4 linked regions of the Homo sapiens genome follow. The protein of the gene in region 1 interacts with the protein of each later gene in a pairwise test. Each region holds a gene or a part of one and is shown in the gene's direction. Other genes may lie near its edges. The genes, in order: KLF3, NUP58, KIF1B and BACE2.

Region 1 (7,606 bases):
CTTGCATGGCAGAAGGTGAAGGGGAGCCAGTGTGTGCAGAGATCACAGGGCAAGAGAGAAACAAGAGAGCCAGGAGGGAAGTGCCAGGCTCGGTTGTTTTTTTTTTGAGACAGAGTTTTGCCCTTGTTGCCCAGGCAGAAGTGCAACAGTGCAGTCTCAGCTCACTGCAACCTCCGCCTCCCAGGTTCAATCGATTCTTCTGCCTCAGCCTCCCAAGTAGCTGGGATTACAGGCGCCCACCACCACACCTGGCTTCTATCTTTTTTTGTATTTGTAGTAGAGATGGGGTTTCATCACGCTGGCCAGGCTGGTCTCAAACTCCTAACCTCAGGTGATCTGCCCACCTCGGCCTCCCAAAGTGCTGAGATTACAGGCGTGAGCCACCAGGCCTAGCCCAGGCTCTTTTCAAGAATCAGCTTTCTCCGAAACTAACATAGGAAGTGTTCACTTATTCCCCATCCTCAGGGAGAGTGTTCATCTATCCATGAAGGATCCACTCCCATGACCCGAACACCTCCCATCAGGCCCCATCTCCAACGCTGAGGATCAAATTTTGACACGAGATTTGGAAAGGACAAATATCTGAACCATAGCAAAGAGGAAGGGGGGTATGTTTTAAATTGTGTGGTCAAGGAAGTCATTCCTGAGGAGGCAACATTTGAGCTGAAAACAGAATGACTTGAAAAAAAAAAAAACTATCCACATGGAAACGGAAACGTTGGCTTTCTCTCACGAATACAAGATGGCTACTACAGCTTCAAGCATCACATCCTCACCTAACAGCTTCCAAAGCAGGTCTGGGGATTTCCTTGTATCAGGAAAAAAACCCCAGCACACTTCCCTTCATGTCCCACTTGCTAGAACTAGGTTGCATACCTACCCTCCAACCAGTCACTGGCAAAAGACACTGGGATTGGCTGGGAGTAACCAGGGTTCCTCTGCTGGGACCAGGCATGGGTATCCTCCACTGAGGATAGGCTTCCCACACCTAAACCAGACTGGCCTGCTGTCAGCAAGGAAAAAGCGCAAAGCAGCTACCACAAAGATCACACTTGAGATTGTCATGTAGGATTTACTGAACACCTGACCATGTTCCAGGCACTGTGCTAGTGTTAGGAATTTTAAAAAGACCCAGGCATCGCTTTTACTATCTCACTCTGTTGCTTAAAAGCACTCAGGGGGGGTAACTCCCTCTTCCCTCCTCTTCACCATTTCAAAGCCCCTGGACTGATGGAGGTATAGTTCACTGCCACTTGCCTCCCTATAGCCCCCACTCACCTCTTCAGCTCAGAATGACTCCTCCCTCCTCGCAACTCATAAACCACATTTATTCCTTTGACAAATATTCATTGAACATCTGGGCCCTGGGAATACATTTTTGCTGAAAAGACAAGGTCCCTGCCCTCATAGAGTTTCCAGTCTAGTGCCACAGAGAGATCATTAAATAGCCAACTACAAGAACGGAAAGTGTTACAAGAGGGGAAATAGGAGGATCCACTCCCATGACCCAAACATCTCCCATCACGCCCCACTAGATGTTACCAGAGCACCTCAACTTGTCCAAAGGTGCAGTGAGAGAATACATATTTGGAGAAAATGTCATTTAAGTCAAGACTGAAACGATGTATAGAATTTAGGGAAATGGGAGTAGAGGTCAGGTTGAGAAGACAAGGCTTTTCTACCTAGAAAAATGAGCATGTGCAAAGGGCCAGAGGTGGGAAGAGAGAGTTGGAAGAAAGGAACGGAAAGAAGTTCAGCGTTGCTGGAAAAGAGTAGGAAGAGAGAAGAGGAAGAAGTGTCTGTAATGACAGGCAGAGGCCAGGCCAGCAGGGGTGGAAAGCTTAGGACTTCATCCTATGGGAAGCCATTGAAGGGACTGACACGATCAGGCTTGCATTTTGGAAAGGGCACTCTTACTCCCGTGCTCCAATGCCTTTTTCATGCTTCAGCCCATACTACAAACAGGATGACAGGATGACCAACAAGACATGGTGGCAACAGGCTGGGCCAGCATAGTGGCCAGAGAGTGGGTAGTGACCAAGGAGGTCCAGGACTCAGTGAAACATGGGCTATGCCCTGCTAGCGAGAAGAAAGGCTTAGGTGCTTCTGTTGGGGTTTTGTTTTTTTTTTGTTTTGTTTTGGTTTTTTTTTTTTTTTTGACAGAGTCTCACTCTGTTCAGTGGTGACATGATCTCAGCTCACTACAACCTCCACCTCTTGAATTCAAGCAATCACCCTGTCTCAGCCTCCCTACATAGCTAGGATTACAGGCGTGCGCCGCCATGCCTAATTTTTGTAATTTCCGTAGAGACGATGTTTCGCCAACTTGGCCAGACTGGTCTCGAACTCCTGGCCTCAAGTGATCCACCCAACTCGGCCTCCCAAAGTGCTGGGATTACAGGCGTGAGCGACCGCGCCCCACCCTGTTGGGCACTTTGAAGAATGATGGTGTCCTTCACTGAGCTACCCAGCACTAGATAGATTCATTTCCGACAAGTTGCATTTGAGCAGCTTCCCACAGGGCACCGAACACAGTGTTCACTAATTAACTGTTTAAAATGGCTTTTCTTCTCCTTTGCCGCCTGCCCCTTCCATATCAAAACCACTCCCTTCTTATCTTGGGTCACACTTTTCTCCGACAGGCCTATTTCGCTCTTCCCCTTTGCGTCCACACCCACATGAACAAGGTAAAAAACATGGTTTATGTGCTTCAAGTTCTCGTCACTGTGTCCCTGGAGAAAAAAACGTACTTTTTTGAGCACCTACTATGAGCCAGTTTCACCAGCCATTCCTAGCACGGTGTTCCGCTAATGCAAACCTTAAGGCAGCCAATCAGCCATTTAATGATGTCAGTGATCAATAAATGGCAATTAGTAATTGACACGAATCCAACTCTTTTTTTTTCTGGAATGTCTTTTATTCATTATGAAGAAAAAAAAAACTCACACCCTTTACATTTTAAAGATGAAGCTTATGGGACAGCACGACGTCCCATGAGCCGGCGTCGGTTCTGGGTATCCTCCACGTGGCCTTTCCTGGACTTGCGTTATTTAAAATATGCGATTTCACTACTTGAGGTTACCGAGTACTAATTTTACAATACTGTGTAGCTACATGAAGCGGCTCGAAATATACTATTATCACTCCGTTTTAAGCAGCACGATGTCTGGATGAAGCATCAAAGCGAGATGGGTCAACTTAAAGGGCCTTTAAAACATCTTGAAGCAATAATAAGCCATACACTGAAGCAGGGGCGGTTTTAAACATTACACAGAACTTAAAACAATCGAACGAATTCGTCCTTTGTTCTTTTTATTACATTAATTATTACATTAATACTGTTTAAAAAGAAACTCAAAAGGCATTAAACTTAGGTACCAATCTACACAAAGTCCTCGAAGGGGCCTGGCTTGGACCGAACGCGCTTTTGTGCCGCCCCGCTCGCTCGCAGCACCCTGAAGGCCACTGAGCTTAGGGCGCTAGGTCCCTAGAAGCGACTTGAAATGAGGGGGTCGCCAGGCCAGGCCCTCGCTCTGCAGGGGAGGATCCGACCAAAGTTTGCCAAGTTTCCAGGCAAGCCCAACTGCGCAAATGCCGCTTTTTAGCTCCAGCGGCAGGCCTGGCCCGTGGGAGTTTTGCCCCAGGGGTCTCCGGGCCTTCAAAGAAAAGTCCCACGAGGTGGGGGGCGCCGCCTGGGCCGCCGGCCAGGGGGACCCGTCGCCCCAGGGCACAAAGAAAGAGCGCGCCTACAGGGTGTCCCCTGACCCCGGCGACTCGGGGCCAGGGAGGCTCGGCGCGCCCCAGCGGCCGCTCTTCCCCTCCCGAACCCGCCCGGCCCACTCGCTCCTGCACCGCGGCCGCCTCGGCTCGGCTTTTCTCTTGCAGTGAGCTGAGTGCGCTCAGCCGAGGAGGGGCCGCGCCGCGCCGCGCCGGCCGCGGGGCCCAGCCCTTCCCGCCGCGCCCGGGGCCGCCCTTCCCGCTGGAGCCGGCTGATCGATGGCCCTGGCAGCCCGCGCCCCCCGCCTCGGCTCGCCCGCGAGCCCGGCTGTGTGTTTTGGAAGCAGCGCAGCGGGCCGCAGCCGTGTGACGCCCGGAGCGGGCAGCGCCGCCCTTCCTTCCCCCCGGGCTCGGGCGGCGGCGCGGCGGCTGGGCCGGGCGGGAGGGCTGGCGGGGCGCGGACTCCGGGGAGGAGGGCGCGGGGAGGGGACGCGGGCGGGGACGCGGGCGGGGGGCGGAGGCCGCGCCGCGCACGCCCAGCCCCACGGCCGCGCCGCGCCTCGTGGGACAGGTTGGGCCGGCGGGGCGGCGCCCGGCTCCGGGGAATAATGAGTGTCTGTCAGGCCGTCCCCGGGTGACTGGGCGGGGCGGGGCGGAGGCGGCGCGGGAGGCGGGGGTGGCGGGGGAAGGGCGCAGGGCGGGGTGCGTGTTTGCGCGAGTGACTCGGCCGACCCCTCCGGCGGCTGCCTCCACCCAAGTGGGTGGGGACCCGCCCAGCCCGGGCGGCCGCGGCGGCTCCCTCTCCCCTCCCTGACCCTCCCACCCCGGGTCCCAGCCTCTACTTACCCCGCCAGCCCCGGGAGGCTCGCAGAGCGAGCGGCGCCGGCGTCATGTGACTGCCCGGAGTTGGTGCCAGGAGCCAGAGGGGAGCCAGGAGCGGAGCCGCGCGGAGCCGGGGCCCGAGCCGGAGCGCAGCGAGAGCGCCCGCCGCACGCGCGCCCGTCCCCGTCCCCTGCGGCCGCCAACGCCGCCCGGACTGGAGCCCTGACATTGCTGCGCTCGGGGGGCTCCAGGCAGCCCGTATCGGGGCCTTTATTTCTCGTCGGCGGCGCCCTGCACCGCGCCTCGCAAAGTAAGTCCCGTCTCCCTCACCTCTGCTCCGCACCCTGGTCCCTGCCGCCCCCCTCCTCGGCCAGTCTGGTTTCATTTTTTCTCCTGGAGGGGGCCGCGGGGAATGGGTCGGGGGTGCAGCGCTGGTGTTGGGGGGGGCGCCTGCGGGCTTGGGAAAGTGTGGCGGCTACACTTAGCCGGGGTGGGGGCGGAGAGCAAGCAAGGAGGAGGGGGTCACGGGTTCGCGGTGAAAAGTGAGGGGTTGAGGCGAGGCACCGTGCGGACCCCGGGTGCGGGGGAGCGGGGCTGGCAGCGCCCGCCGCCGTCCCGGGCAGGGCGCGGGCGGGGGCTCACCTGTGTGGTCCCCGGCCTCCTCCCGCCCGCTCACGATTCCCTCCAAAGCCCCAGAAATCTCCGTGCTCTCCGCGTGTGGCAACGTTGTTTGGAGAAAGGTAGCGCCGCGGCCGCGCGCTCCTGCTCCTCCCCCTCCCGGTGCCCCCCCACCACCACCACAACCCAGGCTCCCGCGTCCTTCCCCTCCCCTCCCTCCGCCCGCGCCCCCCGCCGCCCCCCTCCCAGGACACGGCGCGCGGCCGCTCGCCCGCCACAGCAAACTTGGAGCAGTCTCCCGGCCCTCTGGAAAGAAACTTAGGGCAATTGGGATTGGAGGCAGCATCCCATTCTCGGTTCTGGAGCCCAGGAGCTGCCAGGGCGTCTGGATCCTCCGGGGCAGGAGAAATGAGCTGGTCGGGTTTGGAGAGTCTTCCTGGGGGCATGGAGAGAACCTGCCGCAGTGCCTGGAGCAAGGATTGCAGCGTGGCTGAAGGCGGAAGACGCCTTAGGCAACTGCCTGCAGCCGAGCCTGATGGGGACCCAGGGACAGATCCCTGGATCAGGACCCATGGGACCTACCTAACATTTCCAAGTGGCTTTCTTAGAGATGGCAGATGAGATCTGGAATTGTCATATTCATTTTTTTGGGCAGATAGCTACTGACAAGGAGAAGCACTTTTCTGGTTTAAATTTTATAGCAGTATACAATAATACTAGAAGAATGTGAATGAGACTTATTTTTAATAAGTCAAGTTAAACGGAAATTGGAAATTGCTCACCTTCTTGTATTTCACTAAAATAAACATTTTACACTTAACCACTGAATTTCTTACTCAGAATTTATGTTTCCATTAATATCACCCAAGACATTTTAAATATATTGATTATATTCTCACAAGAGTCTGGTATATGGGAAAAAGTATGAAGTGGTATTCTGACAAGTACCTGAAATGTGCCAGCAAAATCAAGTGGGGAATAGGCCAGTTGTTCATTATAGGTTTTTCCACACAGCAGTTTTGTGCTATCCTTTTCTGTACGAATTTGAGGAGCATTTTTATAAGAGAAATTCATCTGGATGATCTGCCTCACCCTAGGGAAGAAGACTTGCTTTTAGGGGAAAAAACAATCTGCTAGCATTAATATCTACAAATTTTTTGGAGTTAGTAATAGTGTTTAAGGAAAGTGTCCACGAGTGATTTCTTCTGGTTTGAAAAGAGGTATGTTAGTTGACCTTAGGCTGTTAATAGAAACCTGAAATTAGATGTTCGATTAAATTAAACTCCCTAGAGAAACTGGTATCTTCATTTCTGCAGTCAGTGGGCTTTGCTGCAGAACTATTTATTAGAAGAAAAAAACCTAATGTACTATCGGTAAGTTCAATGATGATACATTGTAAAGAACATTTAGCTTGCATGAAAGGGAATGCAAGTACAAAAATCTCAACATGGGAATAACAAAGAAAAGTAACTGCTTAGACCACAAAACCTTGTCAGGTACAAAACGACAACAGAGTTTTGCAGAAAGCTATTGTTTTATTCACTGCAAAGTTTCTAAATTAAAACCCAATCTTCTTGTTGCTATGGGCACAGTGATGCTCTTTTTTTCCTTTTTTTTTCTTTTTTTTTTTCCTTACCTGTACTTAGTCTGCACACACCACATTCTTAAATCTCTGATAACGTAAGCTTGAGTTAAACAGTCCTGGCTAACAAAGTAAAGAGAAATAATGGGAAAGGAACTGTGAATGGATTTTACTATCTTAAAAATAACCCAAAGGGAAAATAGACATTTTAGAATGACTTCTAGAAATTAGTACTCTGGTGTACAGATTGCATAATAATTTTTAGATAAATGTCAGGAACAGAATCACATTCTTAAAAGGCGAATTTCTATAAACGTGTGTATATGTTGAACAGATGAGCAGCTCTGCAAAGATGTGTATAACTGCATTTGAAAAAGACAGTGAAAATTTTGGGTTACTGTAGATGTCCCACAGTCTGTCTTGGAATTTAGTTCTGTGACTAAAGGAGGCTTACAGTTGCTCCAATTTTGGTTCTGTGGGGTACCCCAATTGTAATCTGAATTCCTAACAGCAGTGCTCTATCTTTTTTCCTCTTGATGCACTGAGGCTGAACCATAATCATTACCCTAACTCGGAATTTGATCTGAGCTAGGGACTAGCCATTGGAATGGGGCAGAAAGGGACAAAAGAAATCAGGAGGGAGGCTAGTGTTCATTAGGAAGGTCTCTGCTGCTTGAATATGATAAAATCACATTTCACTTATGATGTTTACTGTATGTGGCAGCTCTTATTTGTAAATAGGGCAGGTCCCCTGTATAAAGCTGGTGTTATTATTCACACCCGTAGAACAAACACCTCCACCCCCCTGTTGTTGTCTTAAAAAACTCCAGCTGCTCATGAATATAGGGTCAGGGAGGGCCGGCTAAA
Region 2 (7,025 bases), on another chromosome or scaffold:
CCTAAGGTGATCTGCCCACTTTGGCTTCCCAAAGTGCTGGGATTACAGACGTGAGCCACGGCACCTGTCTTTTTTTTTTTTTTTTTTTTTAAGGTAACCAAGATAATTTTAAGAATAGATTAGAGGTTAGAAGAGACTGATACCAGAGAAATAAATGCTGTTGTAGTAGTTCTTAAGAGAGATATGGCCTAAGCTAAGGTTTTTAAGGATGCTTGTAGTACAGGATATTTCTGAAGTAGGATCGACAGGATTTGTAACTAATGGAGTACAGGAGAAGGAAAGGATGTCAAGGATGACTGGTTTCTGGCTTAAGCAATTGAACTGAGCAAGGTTGGAGATATAGCAAAAAATGTTTGTGGTGAGATATGTAGGAGGCCAAAGGGACATCAAGATAGAACTAGACAATGAGGACTTAGGTAAATGTCAGTTTAGACTTAATCACCTGTAGGAGAAATGATGAAAGTGGGTGTGTCATTGGGGAAGTAAGGAGGTAGGAATGGAACTCTAGGAAGTGTCAGTTAAGACATGAACAGAGGAAAGAGAGCTACAGAAAAAAAGGACTGAAAAGGAATAGGGAGACAGCTGGGGGCTGACAGAGACACAAGGGCCAGAAGAAAGGAATAGAGAATGGTTATTGATAGAGTATTAGAGAGGAGGGACCATTTTTCTGCTGAGAGGGAAAGGAGGAGGATAAATGCTGCATTAGAGGTAAATCTAGGAGTAGAATAAAAATTGATATGTTACATCGATTGGATTTTCTTTTCTGTTTTTTTATTTTTTGAGACAGAGTCTCACTCTTGTCTCCCAGGCTGGAGTGCAGTGGCACGATTTCAGCTCACTGCAACCTCCCCCTCCCAGGTTCAAGTGACTCTCGTACCTCAGCCTCCCGAGTAGCTGGGGTTACAAGTGTGCACCACCACATTGAGCTAATTTTTGTATTTTAGCTAGAGGCAGGGTTTCACCGTGTTGGCCAGGCTGGTCTTGAACTCCTGACCTCAAGCAATCTGCCCATCTTGGCCTCCCAAAGTTTTGGGATCACAGGCGTGAGCCACTGTACCTGGCCATTCTTTTGTTTTTCTTAAAGAGCCATCTTTTTTGTGTTCACCATGGTTTAGTCTCAACTTTTACATATTTTCTCTCACAGATACACCCTTCTTCTATTGGCAAAAGGTAGTATCATGAACTTTTAAGGATCCTTATTGAAACCAGTATAATAGAACACTTACAGGTAAAGTAGGATTTTTGTTTGTTTGTTTATTCATTTATTTATTTAAATAGGAACGCCAGCCACTACATCTGCAGCTACAACAGGCTTCAGTTTAGGATTCAATAAACCTGCAGCATCTGCCACACCATTTGCTCTACCTATTACCTCTACCTCAGCTAGCGGTCTGACTCTTTCGTCTGCTCTGACATCAACTCCAGCAGGTGAGGCAGAATGAAAAACCGTTGCATTTAATGGTTAAATTTCAATTTTATCTGGTTAGAGAACATAGATAGTCACCTTACTACAGAAATTATTGATTTATAAAGAAGAAAATTCAGCTTTGAGCATTGAAGCAGGAGAGGCTGTCTTGATGTCCCTATTTAGAGAGCAAAGCAGGGGAGAGGGCTAGAGAGGTAAAATGTAAAGCTGTTAATATTGACTTTGTTTTGAAGGAGGCATTTAGTGACAGGGGAAGACAAAGACTTGGCATAAACCTTGCCTGGCTTATGATTCATTTAATATGAAGGTGAAGTTGGTGGCCTGGGTTGAAGACAATATTGCTATCTAGAATCAGTTACCTGGTACCATTCTAATACTCCTCAAAGCCCTTATTTCTGTCGCAGATTTTTGCTTTGAAGCTGCTATTTCTCTTTATTCTTAAGTATGTAATTTTTAGCAAGTAGTTCTTCCAAAGAGCCAATTTTATCATGGATGTCAGTTTTTAAAAACATCGTATTTGTATTTTTCTATGGTGCTGTTAAATAAGTTGCCTTTTGAAAGCTTACTATCTCTCTTTTTATAGCATCCACAGGATTTACTCTAAATAATTTGGGTGGGACAACAGCCACAACTACAACTGCATCAACAGGCCTCTCTTTAGGGGGAGCCTTAGCTGGTTTGGGAGGTTCACTTTTCCAGAGTACAAACACAGGAACATCAGGTAATTGATGGTATTTATTCTCCAGAATAGTAAATATTTATATTTAAATGTACTTATTTTTATTTTAGTACTTTGAGCAGGTCACTTTTTAATCTGCATATTTTCCTTTAAATATGAAAACTAAATTATAAAATGATGGTTTTCATACATAATTGGATGTATTAACCGTATTTTATTTATTTATTTATTTATTTTGAGATGGAGTCTTGCTCTGTCACCCAGGCTGGAGTGCAGTGGCGTGATCTTGGTTCACTGTAACCTCCACCTCCAGGGTTCAAGAGAGATTCTCCTGCCTCAGCCTCCTGAGTAGCTGGGATTACAGGTGTGTGCCAGCACACCTGGCTTATTTTTGTATTTTTAGTAGAGATGAGGGGGTTCACCATGTTGGCCAAGCTGGTCTCAAACTTCTGACCTCAAGTGATCCGGCTGCCTTGGCCTCCCAAAGTGCTGAGATTACAGGCGTAAGCCACCGCACCCAGCCTATTAGCCATATTTTAGAAATACATTTTCCTCTTTCTCAATATTGACTAACCAGATAAGGAAACAAAGAAGAGCCTGTTTAAGGAGTCAGTAAACTGATCTAGAGATAACATCTCTTCTAAAAAGAACAAAAATTGTATTAGCTCAGTAATGCATGGTCTTATAAAAGTATAGATTTATTAGGCTGGACACGGTGGCTCACACCTGTAATCCCAGCACTTTGGGAGGCCAAGGCAGGTGGGTCATCTGAGGTCAGGAGTTCGAGACCAGCCTGACCAACATGGTGAAACCGCATCTCTACTAAAAATACAAAATTAGCTGGGCATGGTGATGCATGCCTGTAATCCAAGCTGTTTGGGAGGCTGAGGCAGGACAATCACTTGAACCTGGGAGGCAGAGGTTGCAGTGAGCCGAGATCATGCCATTGCACTCCAGCCTGGGCAACAAGAGCGAAACTCCATCTCAAAAACAATAATAACAATAAAAAAGAAATACAGATTTATCAACACAAGATGCTTGAAATTTTGCGCTTGACTCACAAGTGTACGTTAATGACTTATGATTAACCGTAGTCTGGTCCTTTTTATTCCTTTTGTCAGTGAGGGAAGATGTAAATAAGCAAATGAATTCTAATACTTTTTTTTAAGTTTTGTGAAACGAACTTGGGAGTATGAAATTATATTCAATACATGTTATATTCAAATGTTATAAATTCACACTAGATTATCTTAAAAGTATGTAGTTCCAAAGTGTGTTTGTAAGACAAGATGTATTCACCTGAAAATACACCAACTGAAACTGCTTTTGTAGAGAGGGTTTAAAAGCCCTCTGTAACAAAACCCCTTTATAACAAGTGAAGATTGAGTGCCTACATACTGAATTGATATATGTTCTGGCCCTCGTAATAATGAAAAATCGCATCATCCAAACTGCATATGCCATCGAATTCAAGAAAGGTTATCAGTCTTTGGCCAAAACATCTCCAGGCTTGTTTCTTGTTGTTTGCCTAAATCAAATATGAAGAAAATCTAGGATCCAACTTTAAAAGCATTAGAGTCCTTTGATCAGTAAGGGGAAATTGTTGTAGTCTTTTGATGGAATTTATAAGTTATGTTTTATTTATAGGACTTGGACAGAATGCTTTAGGGTTGACTTTGGGAACTACAGCAGCTACTTCAACTGCAGGCAATGAAGGCCTTGGTGGTATAGATTTCAGTAGCTCCTCAGATAAAAAGAGTAAGTAATGCTGTTGTAACTTTATGTTTTAACAGTTCTGTTGAGGGAATGTCTAGGTTGCTCAAAATTCCTTTGTGTGGAAGATTAGCAGTTATATATTTAGTAGTAACAGTTAGCTATCTTAATGTGTATACGAATATGTATTTTTTAATAGGGATCATGATACATATGCAGTATTGTTTTGTAGTCTGTTCTTATCTAACATCAGAAGCATTTGTCTGTCAGTAACTCTTTTTAAATATTTTAATGCTGCTTAATATCAGTTTTATGGATGGATAAGTTAGTCAACCATTGTTCTCTTGTTAGATGTTTATTTCCAGATGTTTTACTTTGGGAAGTAAAACACTGGGCATTTATCTAAAAAGGCAACATAATATAGTAGTTTAAGAGTGTCTGCTCTGGAGTGGAATTGCCCGGGTTCAGATCCTGGCTCAACTGCTTATAAGCTCTCTGACCTTATTGAAGTTACTTATATTATGTGCTTTGGTTTTTCCTTATCTGTTAAATGGTTTGAGGGTTACTATTTGTAAAACCCTAGCAGAGCCAGACATGTAGGTGTCTCCTTTTATTATCAATGCTTGTTTATATTTTTGGTTATTTCTTAGGGAAAATACCTGGAAATTGGATCATTGGCTTAAAGAGAGGGATATTTTGGAGACTCTTAGTGTATAGTTTGTGAAATCGCTTTCCCAGAAAGATTTTACCAGTTTACCCCCTAACCAGTATGAAAATACCTTTCTTGCTGTGCCCTTGCCACGTTGAATCTTGGTTTTAAAAATTTGCTAATCCAAATTCATTTTGAAAATGTTTTCATTGTTTTTTGTGTTACTTTGTTTTGCACCATCTCTTCTGCTTCTGATGAAAGCATGTTTCACTAGAATATATACCATATATACTAGGGTATATATATACATATTGAACTTCTCTGAAGAAAGATAAATGGATGAAGCTGTGAAATAGTATCTGTGTATCTATATGACTTTTTTTTTAAAAAACTGGACACAGGTTTTATTATAAGGAGATACTATTCTAGGGTGAATTACTATTTTAAAGTTGGTAAAACCTTTTTAAACTTTTACAAAGTTTAGATTTCTCTTTCAGTGAAAATTGACAAATTTCTAAACAAAGTTTGTTTTTACTTAGTTTTCTCTGTAGCAACTCCATAATTAGGAAAGCAGCCTTAGCAGCTTATTTGTTTACTCAAGTGGAATAGCTTGGTACCACTTCTATTACTTTTATTTTAAGCATGAGAGTACTTCTCTATTATAATTGTTTTTAGGCTCAAAGAGCAGGCTAAGGCAGAAGAGTAAGATAAATGTAAGAAATTAATCTCCCCTCCTCTGCCCCTCCCCACATCTTCCTGCTTTCATAGTGTACCTAAGATAGAGTTGAGCAAGGAGAATATATACAATAAATGAAATAAATGTCTTAGATATGACATTAAATTTTATAAATATTTATGTACACACAAACATGTATATAAATAACTTGGGTGTGTTTCTACTATGGATCTCTGATTACTACATCCCAGTTCCCTTTTATCTATTGCTTATATCAAGGGATTCTTTTTTTTTAATCCAAATGATTTCTGTGTTTCTAGTAGCTGTATCAGTTAGCTTGGGCCCTGCAGTACCAGTGTGGGATTTAACCAGATAGAGAGTAGCAATAAACAGCATTCAGTGAAGAGGGGACAGCGTCAAGTGAGACTAGAGATGAGAAGGACCTTGACCCTTTTGAGGAAATGATAGAAGGCCAGATTAGCCATAGAGCAGAAAGATGAGGTTCCAGAAGTCATGGAGTCCTTATTTGCCATGTTGAGTTTTGTCATTATATTAATACCTCAGGCAATTTGGGTCTATTAAAGGGATTTGATGAGATTTGTATTTTAAGATTAAGAGCATTCTGACAGCCATATGGAAAATAGCATTCAGGAAGGCAAGAATTGTCATGGAGAACTGTTAGGAAGCTTTTGTAGAGCTCCACGTGTATTACTGAGGCAAAGCTAGGTAGATTAATTGGGGGTCCATGGTAATCAGGGATCCATGGTAGAAACAGGCTCAAGTTTTTTTTATATACATGTTTGTGTGTATGTAAGTATTTACAAAATATAATAAAATGTCATATCAAAGAAATAATATGCTAGTCAATTTAAAAGTTGGTGAATTATTTGGAGAAACATAAAATGAAATCCTTATTTTTATTTCCATGTCTCATAAAATCTAGGACGTCTATAGAAGATAGGTGGCAATTTTAGAGATACTAAATATGAAAGAAAAAAATCTTAATAAAATACAAAACATGGAAACATAAATTACAGTTGGATGAAAGAGGTAAAAAAGTAAAACCCCATGTGCAGAGGTAAAAGGTAAATGAGGAAAGTAAAATGCTTGATTTTTTTTTTTTTTTTTTTTTGGGATACAGTGACTTGCTGTGTCATGCAGGTTGGAATGCAGTGGTGTGATCTTACCTCACTGCAACCTCCACCTCCCTGGCTCAAGTGATTGTCCTACGTTAACCTCCTAAGTAGCTGGGACCACAAGTACGCAGCACCACGCCTAGCTAATTTTTAAAAAATTTTTTGGCCAGGCGCAGTGGCTCACGCCTGTAATCCCAGCACTTTGGGAGGCCGGGGCAGGTGGGTCATGAGGTCAGGAGATCAAGACCAGCCTGGCCAAGATGGTAAAACCCCGTCTCTACTAAAAATGCAAAAGCTAGCCGGGCACAGTGGCAGGCACCTGTAATCCCAGCTACTCGGGAAGCTGAGGCAGGAGAATTGCTTGAACCTGGGCAGCAGAGGTTGCAGTGAGCTGAGATCACGCCACTGCACTCCAGCCTGGGCACTAGAGTGAGACTCCGTCTCAGAAATAAAAAAAAAATTTGTAGCCACAGGGTTTTGCCCTGTTGCCCAGGCTGGTCTCCAATTCCTGGGTTCAAGCAGTCTGCCCAAAATGCTTGATTTTTAGGTGCTTATTTTTTCACATTTTAACATCTCTGAAATTGAGATACATCTTACAAGAGTCTAATATTAGAAATACATATTAAATTATGTAAATGAGACAAATAATATACTTAATGTTGAAATAGCTCTTAGAAATATATAAGAAAAATACCGTAAGAAAAGTGTGCAAATCACAAGTAAGCAGTTCATGAAAGAAGAAATAT
Region 3 (7,025 bases), on another chromosome or scaffold:
TAATCCCAGCTACTCGGAAGGCTGAGGCAGGAGAATCACTTGAACCCGGGAGGCAGAGGTTGCAGTGATCCGAGATTGTGCCACTGCACTCCAGTATGGGCAACAGAGCAAAATTCTGTCTCAAAAAAAAAAAAAAAAAAGCACAACTAAGTGTTCCTTAATGATGGGTGGGGTTGGGAGCAAGAGGATGGGGACCTATCTTTTCCTCCTAGGAGATAAGGGTTCCTCTCTGTTATTAGAGTTTGATAAACTGAAAGTGTCTGTTGGTTGGCGTATGGTTCTTTAGGATGATTGACAGTGGCAGTACCTGGACTAACGTGACTTTAGCTTCTTTTGGATGATTCCCTCTTGTCTTTCTGACCTTAGGACCTTCTACCGCTTTGAGGCTGTGTGGGATAGCTCTCTGCATAACTCCCTTCTTCTGAACCGAGTGACACCCTATGGAGAAAAGATCTACATGACCTTGTCGGCCTACCTAGAGGTGAGGAGACTTGGAACTTCAGTTGATGCCAACAGTCAGCCCTGAACAGTGTGCAGGTTACAGCAGGAAGTGGTCAGCGAAGATTCCACTTGTTTTGTCCTCTTTCTTCCTCCACATCCTTAAGTTTTTCATTTTATTATACATTGCTAACTCTTCTGATTATATTAGACTCTATTCCTGGGTTCTGTTTACTCAAAAAATCACATGACTCATTGCAGCTTCAGCTTTAGTAGCCTAATCACCATTGTTTGAAGAATGTGTGATTTTTAAGAAAATGTCACCTCTTGTTTTTGTAGTTGTGGACAGAGTGTAATAGTGGTTAATAGCCCAGACCCAAGACCCAGCCTGTCGGTTCAAATCCCTGTGCTGCCACTTACTTCCTCTATGTCCTTGGAGAAACTCTCTTTGCCTCAGTTTCCTCACCTATCAGGAGAAACAACATTTACCTCAGATAAAAATAAATGCATCTCTAAGGAGTACTACCTACTCTTGCACATATTATCCATTGGGTGGCTGTTGAAATAATTGGTGGAGCTAAAATCCTTCAGTTCTCACAACTGGGACTCGCTTTCCAAATACGTTCGTGTATAGACTCTAGTCACAGTACTCTGCCTGCACTTCATCAGCACCTACCCTGTCTGCTTTCAGCTGGATCATTGCATCCAGCCGGCTGTCATCACCAAGGATGTGTGCATGGTCTTCTACTCCCGAGATGCCAAGATCTCACCACCACGCTCTCTGCGTAGCCTCTTTGGCAGCGGCTACTCAAAGTCACCAGATTCGTAAGTTTTTCACACAAGTTAGCTTCCAGTGTGTTTGTTCAGTACAACAGAATCATTAGTCCTTAAGTATTCTCGGCTTACTGTCTCACGGTTAGTTTACAGTTTATGAACCATTTTGGTAACTGACACCTGGAATGTACTGACTTGCATGCTGACATTTAATAAAATGTTGATGGATGGACGAGTTATGAGGGAAGGAAGGAATATTACATTGTGAACACGTCTAAAACAATTTTGCAAAGACTAAATTTGCAAAGACTTTTAAATGTCATCATCATTATTTCTAACAGAGTACCATTGAAATTTTCTTCTTTTTAAGATTTGTTATGCATATTTAAGGCATACAAAATATGTCAGGAATAATACAGTGAAGGCCATACACAGTGGCTCATGTCTGTAATCCCAGCACGTTGGGAGGCTGAGGACAGAGAATTGCTTAAGCCTAGGAGTTTGAGACCAGCCTGGGCAACACAGACCCCATCTCCACAGAAAATTTTAAAATTACCCAGGTGTGGTGACACACACCTGTAGTCCCAGCTACTCAGGAGGCTGAGGTGGGAGGATCACTTGAGCTTGGGAGGTTGAGGTTGCAGTGAGCCATGATAGAGCCACTGCACTCCAGCCTGGGTGAAACAGTGAGACCCTGTCTCAAAATTTAAAAAAAAGAAAAGAAAAAGGAAAAAAAAAAAAAAGAAAGAAACAATACAATGAATACCTGTGTATCACCGCCCAGCTTAAAAATAAGTGTTACTAATACAATAGAAGGTATTATACCTCCTACTACTCACAATCCCCAGAAGTTGTTGATTATCATTTCATTCTAGTCATTGTTTCCCTCATATCGTCTCTCTTATAGTAAGAAAAGACAAATTTTTAGTTTTCACATTTATATTTTAAATTTTCTAGTTTATCATTCAATTTTATTCACCCTATTGAAATAAAGTGTTTAAAAGATAGAGATGAGGTGGGGCATGGTGGCTTATGCCTATAATCTCAGCACTTTTTGATGCCAAGGTGGAAGGATCACTTGAGGCCAGGAGTTCAAGACCAGCCTGGGCAACATAAGGAGACCCTATCTCTACAAAAAAACTTAAAAATTAGCTGGGTATAGTGGTGTATGCCTGAAGTCCCAACTACTCAGGAGGCTGAGGCAGAAGGATCACATTAGTCCAGGAGTTCGAGGCTGCAGTAAGTTGTGATTACATCACTGCACTCCAGCCTGGGTGACACAGGGAAACCCTATCTATAAAAAAATTAAATTGAGATGAAAGCGGACTCCTCTAGGAAAAGGTATGCTACTTAGGTTCAAAATAAGAAAAGAGCGGTGACAAATAAGAAATGCCTGGAATTATATTTGAGTCCCTGCAGAGAAGACACTATTTTAAGTAGCAGAAATTGAAATTTTCCTGTTTTTGTGCTTTAAGAGATTAAACAATTGTTTTATTTTCTTCAAATAGGAATCGAGTCACTGGCATTTACGAACTCAGCTTATGCAAAATGTCAGACACAGGTAGTCCAGGTAAGCTCTTGTGGATTGAGGAGGTGATAGTTATCTTTGTGTATGTTTCAAGTATCCTGTATTTAGGCTGGGCACGGTGGCACACACCTGTAATCCCAGCGCTTTGGGAGGCCAAGGCGGGTGGATCACCTGAGTCCAGGAGTTCAAGAGCAGCCTGACCAACATGGTGAAGCCCCCCTTTCTACCAAAAATACAAAAATTAGCCAGGTGTGGTGGCGCGTGCCTGTAATCCCAGCTACTCAGGAGGCTGAGGCATGAGAATTGCTTGAACCTGGGAGGCAGAGGTTACAGTGAGCCGAGATTGTGCCACTGCACTGCAGCCTAGGTGACAGAGTGAGACTCAGTCTCAAAAAAGAAAAAGAAAAAAAAATCAAATTATTAAGTCAGATTTGTTCTGTATTCTTTTTAATGTGTTTTTAAACTGCTCTTGTTCCTCTAGCTAGGCGGAGTTAAGCAGCACTTAGCATTTCTATGTTTGTAAACCGAAACATGAACAAAAGTTAAGGTTTTCTAATAGCATTTGATTAATGTGAGTTTGAGTCATTTTACAGAATATACATGGAAAACAAGTCAGGGCCCACAGGCAAGACTTAGATAAGTAAAGAAGACTTTGAGTATGAATCCAAGTAGCACCTAATTATTATACTATCCAGATAGTTTCTTGAGGAATTTTTTTAATTAATATAAATTCATGTATTTAATATGTAAAACCAGCATAATACTAAAAAAAATTAACAGGAAATAATAGAGGCTAAAGTTCTCTGTCATCTGTCAGCCAGTGAGCTACTGAGTGTGTGTATGTGTGTGTGTATTCCCTTCCGTCTTTTTAAAAATTTTTATTTTTAGGGACAGGATCTTTTTTTTTTTTTTTTTTTTTTGAGACAGAGTCTCGCTGTGTCACCCAGGCTGGAGTGTGGTGGCGCCATCTTGGCTCACTGCAACCTCTGCCTCCTGGGTTCAAGTGATTCTCCTGCCTCAGCCTCCTGAGTAGCTGGGTTTGCAAGCACCCACCACCATGCCCAGCTAATTTTTGTATTTTTAGTAGAGATGGGGTTTCACTATGTTGGCCAGGCTGGTCTCGAACTCCTGACCTCAGATGATAGCCCACCTCAGCCTCCCAAAGTGCTGGGATTACAGGCGTGAGCCATCACGCCCGGCCCCATAGTGTATAGACTACTACAGACTATTTAATATTTCTGCATTTTCACCTAACATCATAATTTTATCATTTTCTTAAATTGCATCCCAGTCTTCATAATTATCAAAGAATGTAAAACTCAGTTTTTAAAAACGTTCAGTTGCTTTGCTATTTAAACAAAATCCCATATATCTTCAGACCAAACTGTCTTAGTTTGCTACGTATAAGAATTATTAATTCGTGGCCAGGCGCGGTGGCTCACGCCTGTAATTCCAGCACTTTGGGAGGCTGAGGCAGGTGGATCACGAGGTCAGGAGATCGAGACCATCCTGGCTAACACAGTGAAACCCGGTCTCTACTAAAAATACAAAAAATTAGCTGGGCATGGTGGCGGGCACCTGTAGTCTCAGCTACTCGGGAGGCTGAGGCAGGAGAATGGCATGAACCCAGGAGGCGGAGCTTGCAGTGGGCTGAGATCACGCCACTGCACTCCAGCCTGGGCAACAGAGCGAGACTCCATCTCAAAAAAAAAAAAAAAAGAATTATTAATTCGTTTTGACCTAAACTTGGAATTGAATTTTTTTTCTGAAACAAAAACTTGTTTCCTCTTGTCTTAGGTATGCAGAGAAGGAGAAGAAAAATCTTAGATACGTCAGTGGCATATGTGCGGGGAGAAGAGAACTTAGCAGGCTGGCGGCCCCGTGGAGACAGCCTCATCCTTGAGCACCAGTGGGAGCTGGAGAAGCTGGAGCTCCTACATGAGGTATCCAGGGGCAGGGTTGTTCAGATGCAAGAACTCTCGGACAAGATTGCCAAAGTATCAGTCTTCCTCCCCGCTGCTGCATGTGATCATAGCTTTTCACTTTTCTCTCCTGAGGTCTTAACGAGCTTTGTGTTTGCTATAGCAGTAGTATTGATCTTCTCAGGTGGAAAAAACCCGCCACTTTTTGCTGCTGCGTGAGAGACTTGGTGACAGCATCCCCAAATCCCTGAGCGACTCGTTATCCCCCAGCCTCAGCAGTGGGACCCTCAGCACCTCCACCAGTATCTCCTCTCAGATCTCAACCACTACCTTTGAAAGCGCCATCACACCTAGCGAGAGCAGTGGCTATGATTCAGGAGACATCGAAAGCCTGGTGGACCGAGAGAAAGAGCTGGCTACCAAGGTGTGAATCCCTTCCTCTTTGCTGAACGTCTTCCCACAAGGCTCCACAAACTAGCCTCTCGGTTTATTCATTTTCAACACCTTTGTTCGAGGTGTTTGAAGGCCTGTGATAATACTGTGAATGTAGAAATAAAAAGACGCAGTTCCTACCCTCAACAAGCTTACAGGGCCAGGCACAGTGCCTGATGCCTATTATCCCACCACTTTGGGAGGCTGAAGCAAAGGGATTGCTTGAGCCCAGGAGTTAAAGACAAGCCCAGGCTAACATAGTGAGACCTTGTCTCTACAAAAACAAAAATTAGGCCAGGCATGGTGGCTCACACCTGTAATCCCAGCACTTTGCAGGGCTGAGGCAGGTGGATTACCTGAGGTCTGGAGTTCGAGACCAGCCTGGCCAACATGGTGAAACCCTGTCTCTACTAAAAATACAAAAATTAGCCAGGCGTGGTGGCGAGCGCCTGTAATCCCAGCTACTCAGGAGGCTGAGGCAGGAGAATTGCTTGAACCCAGGAGGCGGAGATTGCAGTGAGCCGAGATAGCTCCACTGTGCTCCAGCCTGAGCGACAGAGTGACACTCCATCTCAAAAAATAAAATAAAATAATAAAAAATTAAAAAATTAAAAAATATAAAGGTTGCAGAATATTAGGTCACAAGCATATAATAGAGATGTGTGTTTCAAATGCTATGGGAGTCAGAGGAGAAGTGTCTATGGTGGGGAGCTCATGAGCTGACCTTGAAAGGATGCGCAGGAGGGAGGCAGCAGTGTCGACACCTGCGTGATCAGGAGGGAGGCAGTGGTGTCCTGCGTGATCAGGAGGGAGGCAGCGGTGTCTTGCGTGATCAGGAGGGAGGCAGCGGTGTCCTGCGTGATCAGGAGGGAGGCAGTGGTGTCCTGCATGATCAGTCTTGGGGAATTCACGTGGGACTGGAACAGGAGGTGTGGAGTGAAGAATCTTGTATACTGCACTGAAGAGTTTAGAGTGGATGATGGGAGCAAGGCAGAAATATGTTAAACAGGTATTTGTGTTTTAGAAAGATTTCTGGCGAGGGGCGGTGGCTCACGCCTGTAATCCCACCACTTTGAGAGGCCGAGGCAGGTGGATCACAAGGTCAGGAGATTGAGACCATCCTGGCCAACATGGTGAAACCCCGTGTCTACTAAAAATACAAAAATTAGCCGAACGTGGTGGCGTGCGCCTGTAGTCCCAGCTACTAAGGAGGCTGAGGCAGGAGAATCGCTTGAACCCAGGTGGCGGAGGCTGCAGTGAGCCGAGATCGCGCCACTGCACTCCAGCCTGGGCAACAGAGTGAGACACCATCTCAAAAAATATATATATTTCTCTGGCAGCAATAAAGAGAATGGATTGATGGTGAAGAGATACACTGAGGAAGGGAGAATTCTTTATCTTTATTACAGTAATCTGATGAGAAATGATAAAAGCTTTTTAAAATTTTATTTTTTTTGAGATGGAGTCTCACTCCTGTCACACAGGCTGGGATGCAGTGGCATGATCTTGGCTCACTGCAACCTCCACTTCCCAGGTTCAAGCGATTCTCCTTCCTCAGCCTCCCAAGTAGCTTGGAGTACAGGCATGTGCCACCACACCTGGCTAATTTTTGTATTTTTAGTAGAGACAGAGTTTCACCATGTTGGCCAGGCTGGTCTTGAACTCCTGACCTCAGGTGATCCACCCGCCTCAGCCTCCCAAAGTGCTAGGATTACAGGTGTGTGGACGCCCAGCCAGATAAAAGTTTTTTAAAGAAGGCAGAGGTGGCTGGGTGCGGTGGCACACGCCTGTAATCCCAGCACTTTGGGAGGCTGAGGTGGGCGGATTGTGAGGTCAAGAGATCACTATGATGTTTTTATTTTTTATTTTTATCTTTATTAAATTTTTTTTTTTTTTGAGATGGAGTCTTGCTCTGTGGCCCACGCTGGAGT
Region 4 (6,896 bases), on another chromosome or scaffold:
TTGAGACCTGGAACCAGAGCCACAGGCCCCTTTTGTGGGTTTCTCTGTGCTCTGAATGGGAGCCAGAATTCACTAGGAGGTCATCAACCGATGGTCCTCACAAGCCTCTTCTGAAGATGGAAGGCCTTTTGCCCGTTGAGGTAGAGGGGAAGGAAATCTCCTCTTTTGTACCCAATACTTATGTTGTATTGTTGGTGCGAAAGTAAAAACACTACCTCTTTTGAGACTTTGCCCAGGGTCCTGTGCCTGGATGGGGGTGCAGGCAGCCTTGACCACGGCTGTTCCCCTCACCCAAAAGAATTATCATCCCAACAGCCAAGACCCAACAGGTGCTGAACTGTGCATCAACCAGGAAGAGTTCTATCCCCAAGCTGGCCACTATCACATATGCTTACTCTTGCTTAAAATTAATAAATCATGTTTTGATGAGAAAAAACTATTCTATTTCACTAGCTTAGTTGTCTCTTTTTCCAAATCTTCTCTGGAAGTAGGTTGGCTATTACCCTGTTGGGAAACAGGGAAATGGCCTGATGCCCCTATTTCTGACCAGCTGTCAGGGAAGGAAGATGCAAGATGTGCAGAAGACACAAGGTAACGTCTACTTATCCCCGTGCTTCGAAACCGTGTGTTTCCCTTTGCAGAACTGGTTAGCCTCAAGCATACCCATCCAATCAGCTTAAATTGTTCAGCAGTTGACCTCTGTGCTTCTTCCTTTGGGGGTGTTTAATCTTTGGTAACAGTTGTGCAGTGGTAGCCTTATTTCGGGGGGCAGTCCCTACTTTCTGTCACTTATCGAGGCCTTTGCCAAAGAAAAGTGGAAGCCGTTTCCTTGACATAGCCTTATATGACCTGATGTCATTAGGAGAAGAGTTAAAAGACAGTATCCCCTCTCTCCTGCTTGTGTGCCAAGTTCAGTGTTCCCTTTGCATTTTTTTGGGGTGGGTTGGCTATATTACAGAATTCCACCAAAAGTGCTAAGTGTCCCCTCCTGCAGAAGTATCGTTTGTATTCACAGTAGGCTACGTGTGGATGTTTCAGCCATCTGCTCTGCTCCCTGGGTCCCCGGGTCACCACCATACTGAGAAATATAGGACTCTGCCAAAGAGACGTGGAGGCCACGTCGGCTTGTCATGGTGTCCTGGAAGACTCTCCAGCAGCCAGAAGAACCTTCTGTGCTGTTTTCACTAGAGAAGATTTGAGTTGCAGCCTCTTGGAAAGAACATGACGGCACGGAACGGGAGGAGGGGGCTCTTGTATCAGGGCCCGTTGTCACATCCGCTCTCAGCTTGTTGAAAACTCATAATCTCAGAATGCATTTCACACGGAGAGATGTCTGGAAGTCCAATTCTCATCCCATTGGCTTTTTCCGTGGTTGCTGTTTTGTGGGCCGCTTTGCACAGGAGTGAAGCCAACACCCCTAGATTGTGCCTTCACCCTTGCTGTGAAAAATTCAAAGCCCTGAAATAAGAGGAGGGAATCGCAGACATGCCCTGATTAGTTTTCCTGCTTATTTCTTCATACAGGCATCTTCTGTTCCGTTGTATTGTGTTAGGTTTCAGAGGCGGGGAGCTTCCTCCTGCAGCAGATGAACAGGCATAGTTCTTAAAATACAGGAAAGTAACAAGTGAGGTTTCCAGGTAGAGTAGGTGAATGAAGTTTGCCGTCATGCTCTGTATTTCATATCAGATTTCTTTATCTTTTCATATCGCATGTCATTGGATGTGACATTTTGATGAAAATACTGAAACTACAAAAGCATAACTTCGCAACAAGAATGAGATAGACAATTGAATGTGGGACATTTTTCTGGCATGTCTTGCTGCTGAGAATCGGACTTCCAGTCAAAACCCTGTTAGTGACACCCACCTCCTCCAGTTATGCAAATTGATGCTTAGCTTGGCAAGCTTTCAAGGAGGTTTGCTTGGAACAGGAAAGGAATTAACAACCCTTTGAGGGTGTCATTTTTACCTTGTAATACACTGTGGAAAATTCTGGAAGACGGTCCTTGCCTGAAAAGGTGCAACTTAGCATTAGGTTGTTATCAGAAACCTTGTCAAGTCTGATGGGAAATGAATAGATGCTGCTTTATTTCCTTGATAACTTCTTTGGAAGTCTGAAATAAATCCTGCCTTCAGTAACTGAAACCATTTATTAAAAATAGCAAGAAACAAGATGGGGACCAATTCTATTTTTATTCTTGGGAATTTGAAAGAGCCACAAGTGATTGGTGTCCGATCTCCCAGCATATACTGTACACTATTTTGTATTTCTCCTGAACCAAAACCAAGTACTTAGCACTCAAGAAACAGATGCCCTGTGTGTGACCGAGGGGAGTGTTTTTCCACAACAGGTTCCACTTCTGAACACTTGGAAGGACCTTGCCTGATTCATGGTGAAACACAGAGGTTTTGGTTGGAGATAAATTTGGGGTCAGTTACTGTTCAAAATTGTGAAAGTAGTTCCCAGGAAGACAGCATTAGTGACTCCGCAGTGCTTTGGGTAATAGATTTTGAAAAGCAATTGTGAGTTGGGGATTCCATCATTTCATTTAAGAGGTGAAGAGGGATTTAATTATTTAATACGCCGGGTGCAAACTTGTTAAATTCCTCTTTCCCTGTCCCTGCTTGGTGGAGCTGCCACGTGTGGTTCAGTTCTAAGTTCTGGACTAGTGCCACTCGATATCATTGGGAATAAATCGTTGTTCAACAGTCTGTTCCACAAACAACAGTAATTGAATTTCACAGACTTTATCCTGATTAGTGGAAATCAAATAATGGAGTGGAATCCCCATGTGTTTTCTCTTGCACAAACTTATTAGACTTGATTAGAAAACTGTTTGGAGGAAAAACTTGCCAGTAAGTTTTTTGGTTGTTGTTTTGTTTTTTTTGAAAAACGACGCAACACCATAAAGTGTAAAATTAGGGGTTCTGGCCAAGAGAGGTACTAGATTTTTTTAATGCCGAGAAAAGTCCATGCCACAGAAGTTATTGTGTATGTCTCTAGGGAGCTTTAAGAATTTCACGTTTGAACTTTACAGCTGTTTACCAATTAAATGGCAAGCTGGAAAAATACATTTTGAGAGGGGTAGAAAGAATAAGAATATAATTAAAAGTATGCTAACAAAATAAGCAGTACATATTTTTTTAGAAAATGCAGTTTAGGCCAGGCACGGTAGCTCGTGCCTGTAATCCCAGCACTTTGGGAGGCCGAGGCAGGTGGATCACCTGAGGTCAGGAGTTTGAGACCAGCCTGGACAACATGGTGAAACCCCGTCTCTACTAAAAATACAAAAAATTAGCCAACGATGGTGATGCCTGTCTGTAATCCCAGCTACTCTGGAGGCTGAGGCAGGAGAATCGCTTGAACCGGGGAGGCAGAGGTTGTAGTGAGCCAAGATTGCGCCACTGCACTCCAGCCTGGGCAACAGAGCAAGACTCCGTCTCAAAAAAGGAAAGAAAATGCAGTTTCATTCCAGCCATCCTTAGATTTCTTTTCCCCTTAAAGTGGCTGAATCCATTGGAGATGTGATTTATTTTGCAGATCCACCAATTCCAAACTTCAGGAATATTCAAGCGGGAGTCATGTGTAAGTGACAGCTTTGACAAAGAGAGACTGTGGCTGGGTGGCCCGGGTGTTGCCCACGCGGAGCAAGGATTGGTTCATTCAACGGATGGAGAGTACAGGATGGCTGGGACCTGGGAAGTTCCAGAATCTGAAAAGAGGGCAGGGCAAGAAGGAGCCAGAAGAGAGGTCCCACCCCTCAGTTGGCAGTGGGGCACGGAGGTCCGCATCAGCCAAGAACGTCCCCAGGATGCCGTGGGCACCTCATTTCACCCCACGTTTTTGGCACAGTCTACTTTTTAGGTATTTTGTAAAGGAACTTCTCAGGATTGATTATTTGCCAGAGGAACAATTAGGCCAAGAGAAACTTGCTTGACAGCCATGTGTAAAACACGTCTGTCCTAATCAAACTAGAGATGCCTCAAGGCCCACGCAGGACACAGGCAGGTTCAAGGTCATGCACCTGGAAATTTGTAGGGGAGGGTCAAGCAACTGAGGCCAAAGGGGGCCGGTAAAGTGGCTTCTGGGGTCTGAGCATCTGGAAGGCTCCTGGCAGCAGTTACCTGACAGTGTCGTTGAGGGGCACGGCAGCTGGGCCCTCACCGTTTCCGCCAGCTCTGCTGAGCCAGCCCAGCCCATGCATTCCGAACATCCGACAGCTTCTTTCTCCAGAATGTCTTCTGTCAGAGACTTCCAGGAAAGGAGCTCCCTCCTGTCTCACTGCTGTCAGCGTGGGAGCCCTGCTCCCCAGGCTCCACGTCCCCGGAAGGTCCATCTTGTCCTGGAGCACACCCAGCCCCATTCAGGGTCAGTGCAGGAGGGAACAGGGAATCTGCATTTCAGTAAGCTCCCCAGGTGAGGCTGCAGAGCAGAAACCACGGCTTTCAGACGTGAGCAGGCTCCCTGGGCTCTTGGTGTCACCCTGTTAGCCACATCTGCGGAATGTGGAAGGCAGAACATAGCCACGCTGCTTAGTGCTGCCAGCGAACCTCAGGTTGCATCAGTGGCTGGAATCTATCACAGCTGTTGGGGATACGTAACTCCCAGCAATAAATCCAGTATTTTCTTCCCTGCCCTGAGCTTCCTCTGGGTTTCTTATCAGCAGCTATTACACACAGATGTCCAGTGCTTCTAAACTAAATTGTACTGTGTAACTTTTACATCACACTTGTGTGCTTAAAAAGCACACCGTGGGTAGTGACTGGGCCAAGAGACATCACAAAGCTTCCTGATAAATTTGAATCCAGCCACGGCAAGAGCGACGTGCGGGTACCTGGTCCCTGATGCTTGGGTGCCCCGTTGAGCCTCGGGTACTTCTTGGACACTATTGTGAGAGCAGCCATCCTGGTGTCTCTGCCAGCATCTTGGGGAACGCTGTGATGGTAAAATATCTGTCTCTCCTCTGGGAATCAGGGCAGCCCTGAGAAGTGAGCAGTTCCCTTTACAGATGGATAATTGTTTGTGTAAGACCAACCAGATAAAGTCCAAACTGTGTAGAACACACGTGTGCCTCACACATAGCCATCTGAGTAAAATATTTTTTCCAATGTAGATTTATAATTAGAAATGACAGATTTATAATATAGACTTCAGTAAGTTGGGCACAGCTGTCACTTTCGTGGTATCAATAAAAGGCTAGAAACCTTGGGTGTCCTTGGCAACCTAGCCTTTGACATTGATGTTTTTCCATAGGATTTTCTTCATTTGGGTTGGAATAAAAATGCATTTTTATTCACAAGGCACAGACAGATAAGAATATCATAAGCAGGGAAGTGTCTCCAAAGGTCAGGACATATGTTTTTCTGTTGAGTGCTATATGTGGAGGTCATTGCAAGTTCCCTGATATGAGTATGGTTTCGCTTGCTACATTGTGCCTATTAAAGTAAAATTTTACACAAGCCTCGCATTTCTAAGATTAGTGTTCCTGAATGAAATGTTAAGAAAACATTAAAAGATTATCTCTTTTTAAGATGGAGGAAAAAAAGTGAACAAAGCTAATTAATCTATCATGAAAATTGCACAAAATAACATTTCTTAACAAATTTAATACAATTTTGTGTTCTTTGTTGCTAGTGGTATAAAACGAGATTTTTTTCCCTCATTTTTCTCATTGTAGATGTCATCTCTCACATTTATATCAGTGAGGTTTGAAATTCTGTGTAGCAGTTACTCAGCACATATGAGAGGGCAGCGAATGAATGAGATTTGTCATGTGCTAATAAAAGCTGAATTTTTGTAATCTAAAATGATGTATTTTCTACTATTGCTGTTAATTTGCATTGTTAAAAATTCTTAAAGTTTAATATGTTATGTTCAGTCATTGAAAGCGACCACTCATTTTTTTCTTAAAGTTGATGCCTTTTCTGCTGTGCTAGAGTCAGTATTTTGCTTCTGGCAGGAGAGCTGCAAACTGTGTATCCTCAAACAGATGCAAAAAGTAGTGCTTTGCAAAACGTTTGTTTTCTGTTTATCTCAGATTAACATCCTTTAATACAAGTTTCTTAAGTGTAACTTGTATTTCTGAAAATGCTTAAAATTATTTTATATTTCCCTTTGGGAATTTTTCTCTATTTCCAGCACGCTGATTTGATTTAAAAATGTAATAAGACCAAGAGTTGGAGTAAAGGGATATTCATTCCATGTTAAAAGTGGCTTCATAGCTACTGACAAATGTCTGAACTATTGTCGTGCCCTTCAAAACTGGAGTTTTCTAAAATAATCTTATTTTTATACTTGTATGTTCCAGCAATTTAAGATATATACCATTGAAAGGGAAATAAAACATTTTTGTTTATTTGAATAAATAATACTCCCAACCTGTTGCTTTTGGAATGTTTTGTAAATACTTCTCTTGGGTCACATGTCTGGCGGTCCATTACGTCCACTCCTTCATTGTGGGTTCCTGGAAAATGTCAAGGATAAAATGGAGTGGAAGGGAGGGTTCAGGCTCAATCATTAAGATGCAAAACATGCTGAAGGTGGGGAGGGTAAAGTGCTTTAGAGTCTGGAAACCCTACAGGTGGAAAGAAAACACCTGCAGAGAAGAAACTCAGTAAGCACATTTCAGCGGTCTTAAGGATGGGACAGATGGCTTAGCTTGGTCCTGGGGACTGAGGGTGACCAGGTTGGCAATGCCTGTGCGGTCACTCCCATGATCACCCTGCAGGGAGATGGCATTCTACCATTTCACAGACGAGAAACCATCTCTGAGTCACCTGCCCAGAAAAACACAGCTAAAAAGTGGAGAGGAACCCAGCTCTGTTCCCCTCCAACAGCCCAGCTCTTTCTCTGCACTACACTCTGGTCCATCCGCCATCCTGAACCACACTCTCAGA

What was found.
Region 2: the proteins of KLF3 (region 1) and NUP58 interact in binary tests that used the Homo sapiens proteins (3 or more experiments, as listed by UniProt).
Region 3: the proteins of KLF3 (region 1) and KIF1B interact in binary tests that used the Homo sapiens proteins (3 or more experiments, as listed by UniProt).
Region 4: the proteins of KLF3 (region 1) and BACE2 interact in binary tests that used the Homo sapiens proteins (3 or more experiments, as listed by UniProt).

The regions. Positions count from the first base shown.
Region 1 is NC_000004.12:38,659,613-38,667,218, forward strand, and holds the start of KLF3 (Krueppel-like factor 3), read left to right. Parts: upstream 1-4,586; 5' UTR 4,587-4,849; exon of another isoform or gene 4,850-5,016; intron 5,017-5,181; exon of another isoform or gene 5,182-5,281; intron 5,282-7,606. UniProt on the Homo sapiens protein: Binds to the CACCC box of erythroid cell-expressed genes. May play a role in hematopoiesis.
Region 2 is NC_000013.11:25,311,605-25,318,629, forward strand, and holds part of NUP58 (nucleoporin p58/p45), read left to right. Parts: intron 1-1,278; coding exon 1,279-1,428; intron 1,429-2,009; coding exon 2,010-2,147; intron 2,148-3,752; coding exon 3,753-3,863; intron 3,864-7,025. UniProt on the Homo sapiens protein: Component of the nuclear pore complex, a complex required for the trafficking across the nuclear membrane.
Region 3 is NC_000001.11:10,360,563-10,367,587, forward strand, and holds part of KIF1B (kinesin-like protein KIF1B), read left to right. Parts: intron 1-366; coding exon 367-481; intron 482-1,129; coding exon 1,130-1,263; intron 1,264-2,720; coding exon 2,721-2,782; intron 2,783-4,537; coding exon 4,538-4,683; intron 4,684-4,846; coding exon 4,847-5,086; intron 5,087-7,025. UniProt on the Homo sapiens protein: Has a plus-end-directed microtubule motor activity and functions as a motor for transport of vesicles and organelles along microtubules.
Region 4 is NC_000021.9:41,276,154-41,283,049, forward strand, and holds the end of BACE2 (beta-secretase 2 isoform A preproprotein), read left to right. Parts: 3' UTR 1-6,377; downstream 6,378-6,896. UniProt on the Homo sapiens protein: Responsible for the proteolytic processing of the amyloid precursor protein (APP).